Homo sapiens: one gene and its partners. The protein of the gene in region 3 interacts with the protein of the main gene of each other region in a biochemical or structural test. Each region holds a gene or a part of one and is shown on either strand. Other genes may lie near its edges. The genes, in order: WWP1, CDK11B and YWHAQ.

Region 1 (2,385 bases), on a different chromosome or scaffold from region 3:
GTCTCTTCTATTGCAAAAAGAAGTTTTTCCTTTAGTTGTTCATAACTCTTATATGGTGGTAGATCCAAGCGATTAAAACTGAACAGAAACAAAAACAAAATCAGATGTTTTCAATAAAATGAAAAAAATCTAATAGAATACTTTTCAAAGCACATAGAAATGCTGAATGGATATATGTATACTATATATGTTAAAATTTTGCCAGAAGTATTTAGAGTAATCTAAATTTAAGACTTACATATAAAAACTATTTTAACATCTCCAAGAGGAAAATGGAATTACAAATAATAAGTGTAGCAATATGGATAAAGACAAATTTAAAAAAAAAAAAAAATCCATTTTCTTTTTACTATTCCTGTTACATGTGTCATGAGTCCTCTTAACTTCTCTTAGGATAAGAGTCCATTTCTTTCATCCACTCAGTCACTCATTCATCAGTCATTTACCGAGAATTTTTTATATAACTGATAAGCTAGTGATACAGTGAAGAAAACTAAAATCCCTGTCTTCATGGAATTTACATTCTGGGGTAGAGACAGTCAATTAACAAATATATATGTTTCTTTGTCTTTTCAAATAATCTAACCACATATATAAACTCTTCTAAAATGACACTTTTTCAATCTTGCCATACTCAATTCCATTCTGGTATTAACTGATAAAAATTTTAAAATACTAAAAAATGCTTAAAATAACTATTATTTTTCAGTTTACAAAGGTGGAATAACATTTCGTTTTGTGAGGTACAGCACTGAGTAGCTAGATTAGGATTCGGGTGTTCAGGGTTTTGGTCCCTACAGTAGCAGTGACTAGTGAGATAGCCCTGAGTAAGTCAGAACCCTTCTGTACCTTCATTTTCCCATGTGGAAGGTTTCTAGAGATTATCCAGGTGCCTTCTTACCACTGTCACCACTTTCCATGTGCCCTTGACCCTCCCATGTCAGAGTCAGGAAAGAGCCTTTGAAACAAGGCATCTAAATAAAACAGTGCTGTTCTAAGACTGTATTCTTTGTATTTTAAATGAAGTTAAAGATATTAATAGCAGCAACTAAGCAGACCATATACTGCCCTCCCCTTTATACTTCAAGGTAGAGTATGATAACAAGGTCAGAAAAAAAAATTATTTTTTAATACTTCCTATACAAGACAACCAGTCACTTTCTGTTCTCTTACATCTTTCACATATAGCCTTTGCCAAATTCTGTCATTCTATCTACCAAATATTCCATTTTTTCTCCTGATTATTTATTTGGAGACAGGGTCTGGCTGTGTCGCCTAGGCTACTGTCTCGGCTCACTGCGACCTCGACCTCCCAGGCTGAAGCAATCCTCCCTCCTCCCACCTCAGTCCCTGGAGTGGCTGGGAGTACAGGCGCATGCCACCATGGCCAGCTAACTTTTGTATTTTTTTTTGTAGAGACGAAGTTTTGTCATGTTGCCCAGGCTCCTCCTCATCATTTCTACTGCCACTACATCCCTTTGTATATGCTTCCCCATCATCTCTTACCTGGACCATCAGAGAATTCTTTGGGTCTATTTGTTTTGTTTCTTTTTTACTTTTTGCTAAAAAGACATACCAGTTTATGCCACTCTTCAAAAACTTTTGCTGCTTTCGAGTTGCTATGGGTGGGGAGGGGGCTGTGGTGGGGAAAGGAAGCTTATGCTCTTTGCTGTCAACTTGTTTCATGCTCTAATCCAAGTGAGCAATCCAATTTTGCCTAGCAATCTTAGCCGTGTTCCTCTAATGAATACTTGCCTATTCTCTAACAATTCTCCCAATTCCTTCTTTCTCTCAAAAGTTTTTCCTTTCTTCACTCTTAGCCAGTGACTTCTCCTTATACTTTGAGAAAACAGAAATCAGTGGGTGGTAATTACTTTCCTTTCACAAAATTTGAAATCTATTTTAATTCTCCCTTTGACTCAAAAATCTCTCTCTCAATACACACACACACGCGCGCGCATGTGTGTATACATATGGATCTATCACTTTTATTGAAGGCAGAGGTCTTCAAATTTTGGTCACAGGACTCCTTTTCACTCTTAAAAATACTGTCAACCTTGGCTGGGAGCAGTGGCTCATGCCTATAATCCCAGCACTTTCAGAGGCCAAGGCAGGACAGCTTGAGCCCAGAGTTTAAGACCCACCTGGGACAACACAGCAAAACTTTGTCCCTACAAAAAATTAAAAAATTAGCCAGGCATAGTGGCGTGCACTGGTGGTCCCAGCTACTGAGGAGGCTATGGCAGGAGGATTGCTTGAACCCAGGAGGTTGAGGCTGCAGTGAGTTGTGTCTGTGCCACTGCACTCTAACATAGGTAACACAGCAAGACTCTATCTTGGGAAAAAAAAAATGGATTTCCAACTGCAAAGAGCTTTTATTTATAT
Region 2 (3,757 bases), on a different chromosome or scaffold from region 3:
GTGAAGCATAATAAAGTGAAGTGCAATACAACAAGGTATGCCTGTACTCACTAACATCCCAAATGATGCTGCTAAAGATCTTAGCAAAAGAGGTACTTTGCCAATGCCTCTTACCAAATTACTAAAAAGGTTTCCTGAGTACATTACCATGCAAACCAAGAAAGATGTAAAATATTTATATTAATTTCAAGGCAAGTTCCCACTATATTAAAAATACTTAGAGATAGTATTATGAACATACTAATGAACCGAGAAAAATTAGTCCAGTTTTGCTAATGACTTAACATTCAACGTATTTTATTCTCCATGTATGCTCAATCTAGACACAGCTTTAGTGTGTTAAATCTGCCTTTAATGTCAACTGAATATTTGAATGTTTTTGTTAATTTTTAGAATAGATTTTGGGCTCACCTGCGACATTTGGAAGTACAAAAGAACTTCACCGAAGAAGCGTTGTTCTAATGGAAAAATGAGGGCAAAGAAATTAAATCTCCTTTAAGAAAACCACTTACTTAAAAAATATGGCTTACATTTTTTAAGCGTTTTATCTCTGCTTTCTCCTCTTGTTCCTTCCTTCGTTTCTTTTCCTGAAGAATTTCATCTAAAGTTTTCACTTTCCAAGAGTCCTTTTCATCACCCATTTGAGTTAAAACACTGCAAAAAGAAAAATAATTCAGCCTACATCAGGACACAGCAAGCTATGGTGCTGAACACTTGAACCTAGTCACTTTTGAGGGATTCAGAATAAATCCTCATTAAGAATAAGAAGTTGTGCCCGGCGCAGTGGCTCAAGACGGTAACCCTAGCACTTTGGGAGGCCGAGGCGAGCAGATCGCTGGAGTTCCGGAGTTCAACACCAGCCCGGGCAACATGGCAAAACCTCGTCTCTACAAAAAATACAAAAGTTAGCCCAGTGTGGTGGCGCGTGCCTGTATTCCTAGCTACAGGAAGGAGGCTGCTAGAGGCAGGAGGATCACTTGAATCAGAGAGGTCAAGGCTGCAATGAGCCAAGACTGCGCCACTGCACTCCAGCCTAGATAACAAAGTAAGACTTGGTTAAAAAAAAAAAAAAAAAAAAAAAAGTAAGCTCTAGGCTGAGGCGGGTGGATCACAAGGTCAGGAGGTCAAGACCAGCCTGGCCAACACGGCGAAAACCCTGTCTCCACTAAAAATACAAAACTTAGCTGGGCGTGGTGGCGGGTGCCTGTAATCCCAGCTACTCGGGAGGCCGAGGCAGCAGAATCGCTTGAATCCGAAAGGCGGAGGTTCCGGTGAGCCGAGGTCGCGTCACTGCACTCCAGCAAGACCCCGTCTCAAAAAAAAAAGAAAAAAAAACAAGAATGATAAGTTGTAAGCCAGGCAAGGTGGCGAGCGCCTGTAGTCCCATATACTCTGCAAGCTGAGATGGGAGACCGATTGAGCCCAGGAGTTCCAGGCTGAAGTGCGCTTGTGAACAGCCACTGCGCTGCAGCATGGGCGACAAAAAAGAGTGATGGGTTCTGAAAAATGACCGCTTGAAATCAAGTCTCGTTTCTGTCATTCTTGTATGGTCTTGGGTAACGTAATTCACCTCAGTTTAGTCTTCCGTACAACCAGAATAACAACACCTACGTGATAGTATCGATCGCGGATTAAAGATCATCCGTTTAAAGGCTCTTAACTCAGGACCTGCCACTCATCAAACACTGCTTTTACTGTCAGAATCTGCTAGAAAGACCGCTTGGACTACGTGAAGCCACTAGCACACTGGACAGCTGCACCTTGAGACCGGGGAGATGCTCCGAGATGTGCTCGCGAACAAGGCCACCTGACCCGGGCACTGGGCTATTTCCTCGGGTTCAGTCCCGCACACTTGAGGTTCAGCCTGGCAGACGTTGGCTCCAGACAGCGTTTGGACCCGCCGCCTCCACCACCCAAAGTTCCGTGCGGGATGAGACTGTCCGCGGAAGCGAGGGTGTCGCTCGCCCCCGGGCCCGGGTCCGCCCCGCTCCGAGGCCTGCTCGGAAGAAAGACCTCGGTGCGCAGTTCTCCTCGCGCTCCCACACCTGGTCCGCCCAGTCGGAACTCACCCCTACGCCGCCGCCGCTGCCGCCGCCGCCGCCGCCGGTCCCGGAGCCAGAGAAGAAACAGCAACCGGCGCGCGCCAAAAGTATCGTCACTTCCTGTATTGGCGCGTAATGATGATATAATAGCCGACCTCCGGCCCAGAACTCGAGACAACGACAGGGGCTCGCTCTGTGCGGCACTTCCTGTGTCTGCGCGGGATGATAACGCATAAAACAGCGCTTGCTCAGGTCCAGGACGCCAGAAGAAACAGCCCGGTGAGCGCACTTCCGACTTCGGCGCGGGCTGTGACGCAGGAATCGGGACTCCGGAGGAGCGACGCCCACTTTTGGAGCAGTTTGCGCCTGCGCGGAACGCGTGGCCGGCTTCCGGAATCCTACCGGGACTTTTCCGGTAGCGAAGCCCGCGCCTGTGCCAAGGCTTGCGAGCAGAATGCCTTCGCGATGGACGCCCGCATTCCACCCCCTTGACCGCTGGGACCCCTAGTGGCGGGTGGGTGGAGCGCGCTCCATTTACCTGCTGGTTACCTCGTGAGGCGCCTCAGGTCTGTGTGTCTTGTAAAGGCCGATCTCGGAATTTAACTCTGAACCTTACTCAGAAACAGGGCAGGGAGAGCTCTTACGATGTGATTTTATTTTATTTATTCATGTATTTACTTTTGAGTCGGAGCCTTGCTCTGCCGCCCAGGTTGGAGTGCAGTGGCGTGGTCTTGGCTCACTGCAGCCTCCTCCCGGGTTCAAGGAATTTTCCTGCCTCAGCCTCCCGAGTAGCTGGAACCACAGGCCCGCGCCACCACGCCCGGCTAATTTTTATATTTTTGGTAGAGACGAGGTTTCGCCATATTGGCCAGGCTGGTCTCGAACTCCTGACCTCAAGTGATCCGCCCGCTTCGTCCTCCTAAAGTGCTGGGATTACAGGCGTGAGCCACCGCGCCCGGCCTTTTACAATGTGATTTTGAAGCTGACACTGGCAGTGGGTCCTCAAAGTGCAGACTCACTGGGTATGGTGCTTCCCCCAACTCCCAGGGCCCCACTCCAAACCCATGGATTCAGAGCATTGCAGGAGAAGAGGATAAAACGAGCAATTAATTCCCTTTCCATATGTCAGGTTTTCCTCTTGACTTGAAAAGTCACAGAAAAATGCTTTAGACATCTGAATCTCAGGAAACAAACAATGGAAGATAAACATCCGCATTTACTGGGCCTGAAATGGGAAAATGAAAGATGTGGCAAGAAACTGACAAGGGCCCAAGAAGGGCGATGGGTATCGGAATTTTTTTCATCCCGGAATGAAATGCTGCTTGCTTTGTGTACCCAAGCTCTTTTTTTATTTTTATTTTTTTGAGACGGAGTCTCGCTCTGTTGCCCAGGCTGGAGTGCAGTGGCGCGATCTCGGGTCACTGGAAGCTCCGCCACCCGGGTTCACGCCATTCTCCCGCCTCCACTCCATTCGCCCGCATTAGGCTCCTGAGTACCTGTGACTACAGGCGCCTGCCACCATGCCCGGCTAATTTTTTTTTTATTTTGGGTAGAGACGGGGTTTTACCGTGTTAGCCAGGATGGTCTCAATCTCCTGACCTCGTGATCAGCCTGCCTCTGCCTCCCAAAGTGCTGGGATTACAGGCGTGAGCCACCGCGCCTGGCCTCCCCCAAGCTCTTAATGTTGCTTCCTGAGTTCTTGGTAACTGGGGAAA
Region 3 (3,657 bases):
GCCTTGGATTAGTCCATAAATAAAATGAGCTGTATTAAGTTGTATTGGATTGTGTCATGCTGTCCTTTGGCTTCTTCCTAACGTGTTGATATCTTACCTGAACCTCTTGTCTAGCTAGACTTGTCATTTTTCCCCTTGTCATTATTGTGTGTATGCTGTTCAAACTCTACAGTTCACCTTACTGAAACTTATTCAGTGGGTCCTATTTTTTGTTTGGTTTGATTTGATTTGTTTTTATTTTTGAGACAGAGTCTGGCTCTGTGGCCTAGGCTGGAGTGCAGTTGCGCCATCTGGGCTCACTGCAACCTCCACCTCCCGGGCTCGAGCCATCCTCCCACCTCAGCATCCGGAGTAGCTGGGACTACAGGCACTTGCCACTATGCCTGGCTAATTTTTGTATTTTTTGTAGAGATGAAGTTTTGCCATGTTGCCCAGGCTGGTCTTGAACTCCTGAGCTCAAGCAATCCACCCAGAGTGCTGAGATTACAGGCGTGAACCACTGTGTCTGGCCGGGTCCTATATTTTCAAAGTGCCACTTCTTCATAGTTGTCTCCAAAGCCCTGAGCTCTTTTAAAGACTTCGCACAGACTGCAATTATATTGAAATCTATTAGATGCAGTGAAAATTGATGAACGGCAAATCTCCTCCCCTCCTTCATAGTAGCTTGGCATATGTGGTTCAGACTTTTTAAATTTAATTTTATTTATTTATTTATTTATTTTGTTGAGACAGAGTTTTGCTCTTGTTGCCCAGGCTAGAGTGCAGTGGCGCAATCTTGGTTCACCTCAACCTCTGCCTCCGGGTTCAAGCAATTCTCCTGTGTCAGCCTCACAAGTAGTTGGGATTACAGGCATGCACCACCACACCCGGCTAATTTTGTATTTTTAGTAGAGACGAGGTTTCTCCGTGTTGGTCAGGTTGGTCTCAAACTCCCGACCTCAGGTGATCCTCCCGCCTCGGCTTCCCAAAGTGCTGGGATTATAGGCGTGAGCCACTGCACCCGGCCGTGGTTCAGACTTTTAATGCAGTGGTGAACACTGTCAACAATTTTTCTCCAAACAACCCCTGGGAAGAAGATCGTTGTTGCATGCTTTATGCTAGGATTTACTTAAGTTCTCGAAGTGGAATTTCCAAATCAAAAGATGTGCGGTTTTTTCCAGATAGCCTTCTGAAAAGGTATGTGTATACACTGTCATCAGCAGTGGTTGAGAAGGTCATTCATTTCCCCTAACCCTTTCCAGCACAAGCAAGTTTTTAAGGCTAACAAAAATCTGGTGACCAGAAGGTTTAACGTCTTATCTCCTTGTTCAGTATTGGATGTATGAGGACCACCTCCCTTCTCACAAAGGACTGCTTAAGAAAACTAGTATTTTTAAGTCTCATGTAGTTTCATTTAGAACATGATACCATAGCATGGGATTAGTTCAGTCAAGGTGTTGCTTTGGCAGTTGGGAAATCTGGTTGGCTATGGTAATGTTCTCTATTTTTATCATTAAGACCAGTTTTTGTATTTAACACTAATCCTTTCCAAATGGCAACAGAAAACGTATCTGAATTCATACCACTGACTTTCTGGATATCAGGGAGGTGGTAGAGAGACATCATTTAAAAGATGTGAAGAGAAGCAAAGTTTATCCATTGCTACTTTAATTAAACTCTTAATCCATAGATAAGTCAGTGATAAATATGATAAATTACTAGATTTGAAACTATTGTTTGCATATTGAGTATTTAAAGACAAAATGATGATAATACCTAGGACTTCAGAGTAATTGGGGGAATACAGATGAAACAGGAGTGTCTATGAATTAATATAGTTGCAGCTGGCTTTAATTGGAATTCATTGTACTATTCTTTGTTCTCCTGTGTACCTTTAAAATTCCCTATTATAAGTTTTTCCTCCCCTAGAAATTCCACTCTTAGGTGTTTACGCAAGAGGGAATGATGCATGGGGCCAAGGCGCATAGGTACAAAAATGTTAATAACAGCTTTATTCTAAGAGCAGAAAACTAGAAATAATCCACTAGTAGGAAAATTGATAAACACTGATGTATTCATAAATGGAATACTATTCAGCATTAAAATGAATGGACCACTGATACTACAATATGATTGAATTTCAAAAACATGCTAGGTGAAAGAAACTTTGCATGAAAAAGTACATAGTGTATGTGATTCCATTTATATGAAATTTTAGAACAAACACAACCTGTTTATGGTAGGAAAAAAAATCAGGAATAATGGCCTCTGTGGGAGAATAGGCAGAGATTGGGAAGGGGCAGGCTTCTGGGATAATTGTATTTTTTTTTTTTTTTAATACTTTAAGTTCTGGGATACAAGTGCAGGACGTGCAGGTTTCTTTCATAGGTATACATGTGCCATGGTGGTTTGCTGCACCCATCAGCCCGTCATCTACATTAGGTATTTCTCCAATGCTATTCCTCCCCTAGCCCCCGACGCCCTGACAGTCCCCGCTGTGTGATGTTCCCCTCCTTGTGTCCATGTGTTCTCATTGTTCAACTCCCACTTGTAAGTGAAAACATGCGGTGCTTGGTTTTCTGTTCCTGTGTTAGTTTGCTGAGAATGATGGTTTCCAGCTTCATCTATGTCCTTGCAAAGGACATGAACTCATCCTTTTTATGGTTGCATAGTATTCCATGGTGTATATATGCCACATTTTCTTGATCCAGTTTATCGTTGATGGGCATTTGGGTTGGTTCCAAGTCTTTGCTATTGTGAATAGTGCTGCAATAAACGTATGTGTGCATGTGTCTTTATAGTAGAATGGATAATTGTATTCTTTAGTTGATATGGGTTTGGGTTTTATACATTTGTCAAAACTCAGCAAATGTACACCCAAGATTTGTGCATTTTGTATGTAAATTTTGCTTTGAAAAAAAACTAGTGATATGCCTGTACTTATGTCTTCAGCTTGTAACTGCTAGAAATGTATGGGTATCTGAAAAAGCAAGTATGGCAAAAGGTTAATGGTAAGATCCAGGTGGTGGATATGTGGGGGTGTTCACTGTAATTGTTGGTTGCCATGTATTGGGGGTTATGATATTTCACATCACTGGTTGAGTGTCTTTAATACATATAGCAAGAAGATAGTGTGTAGCCTGTGTCTTGTTATCCTCAAGATACGAGAATGTATAGAACGGTATTGATCCCCACTTAGGAGACATCACTGGCACCATCACTTTTTTGTTTGGGTGATGAGTGCTAAGTAGATTGATGGAGTTACCAGATGCTGTGTAAGACGTCTTAATTGGCCATACTCTGGGACAGTGGTTCACAAATTTGATCTCAGGACCCCTTTTTAGAAAATAAAATAACTTTAACAAAAAATTGAATGAGAATAGCGGCATTGCATTTCATTCAACCTATTGTAGTATTCCACCTCCTGTAGCTTCTGGAAAACTCCACTTGTGAGAAAATGACAGTGGAAAAAAAGCAAATATCTTAGACTTATGAAAGTGGTTTTACTTTGTCTCCTCTCCACCCCACAAAGGATATAGGGGAGACCTCTAGGGGTTCCCAGACTATACTTTGCCCTATGAGAATTTAATTACTGAAGTTAATAGTAGAACTGCTGTTCTACGAGAATTTTATTACTGTGTTTGGGTGATTGAGCAGTTTATTTTCTGAGTAGTCATC

Evidence for each region.
Region 1: the proteins of YWHAQ (region 3) and WWP1 form a complex in vitro, tested with the Homo sapiens proteins (one large-scale study listed by BioGRID).
Region 2: the proteins of YWHAQ (region 3) and CDK11B form a complex in vitro, tested with the Homo sapiens proteins (one study listed by BioGRID).

Annotation. Positions count from the first base shown.
Region 1 is NC_000008.11:86,464,487-86,466,871, reverse strand, and holds part of WWP1 (NEDD4-like E3 ubiquitin-protein ligase WWP1), read right to left. Parts: intron 79-2,385; coding exon 1-78. UniProt on the Homo sapiens protein: E3 ubiquitin-protein ligase which accepts ubiquitin from an E2 ubiquitin-conjugating enzyme in the form of a thioester and then directly transfers the ubiquitin to targeted substrates.
Region 2 is NC_000001.11:1,656,845-1,660,601, forward strand, and holds the start of CDK11B (cyclin-dependent kinase 11B), read right to left. Parts: upstream 2,161-3,757; 5' UTR 2,070-2,160; exon of another isoform or gene 1,612-2,069; intron 655-1,611; 5' UTR 642-654; coding exon 531-641; intron 459-530; exon of another isoform or gene 421-458; coding exon of another isoform or gene 412-420; intron 1-411. UniProt on the Homo sapiens protein: Plays multiple roles in cell cycle progression, cytokinesis and apoptosis. Involved in pre-mRNA splicing in a kinase activity-dependent manner. Isoform 7 may act as a negative regulator of normal cell cycle progression.
Region 3 is NC_000002.12:9,620,841-9,624,497, reverse strand, and holds part of YWHAQ (14-3-3 protein theta), read left to right. Parts: intron 1-3,657. UniProt on the Homo sapiens protein: Adapter protein implicated in the regulation of a large spectrum of both general and specialized signaling pathways. Binds to a large number of partners, usually by recognition of a phosphoserine or phosphothreonine motif.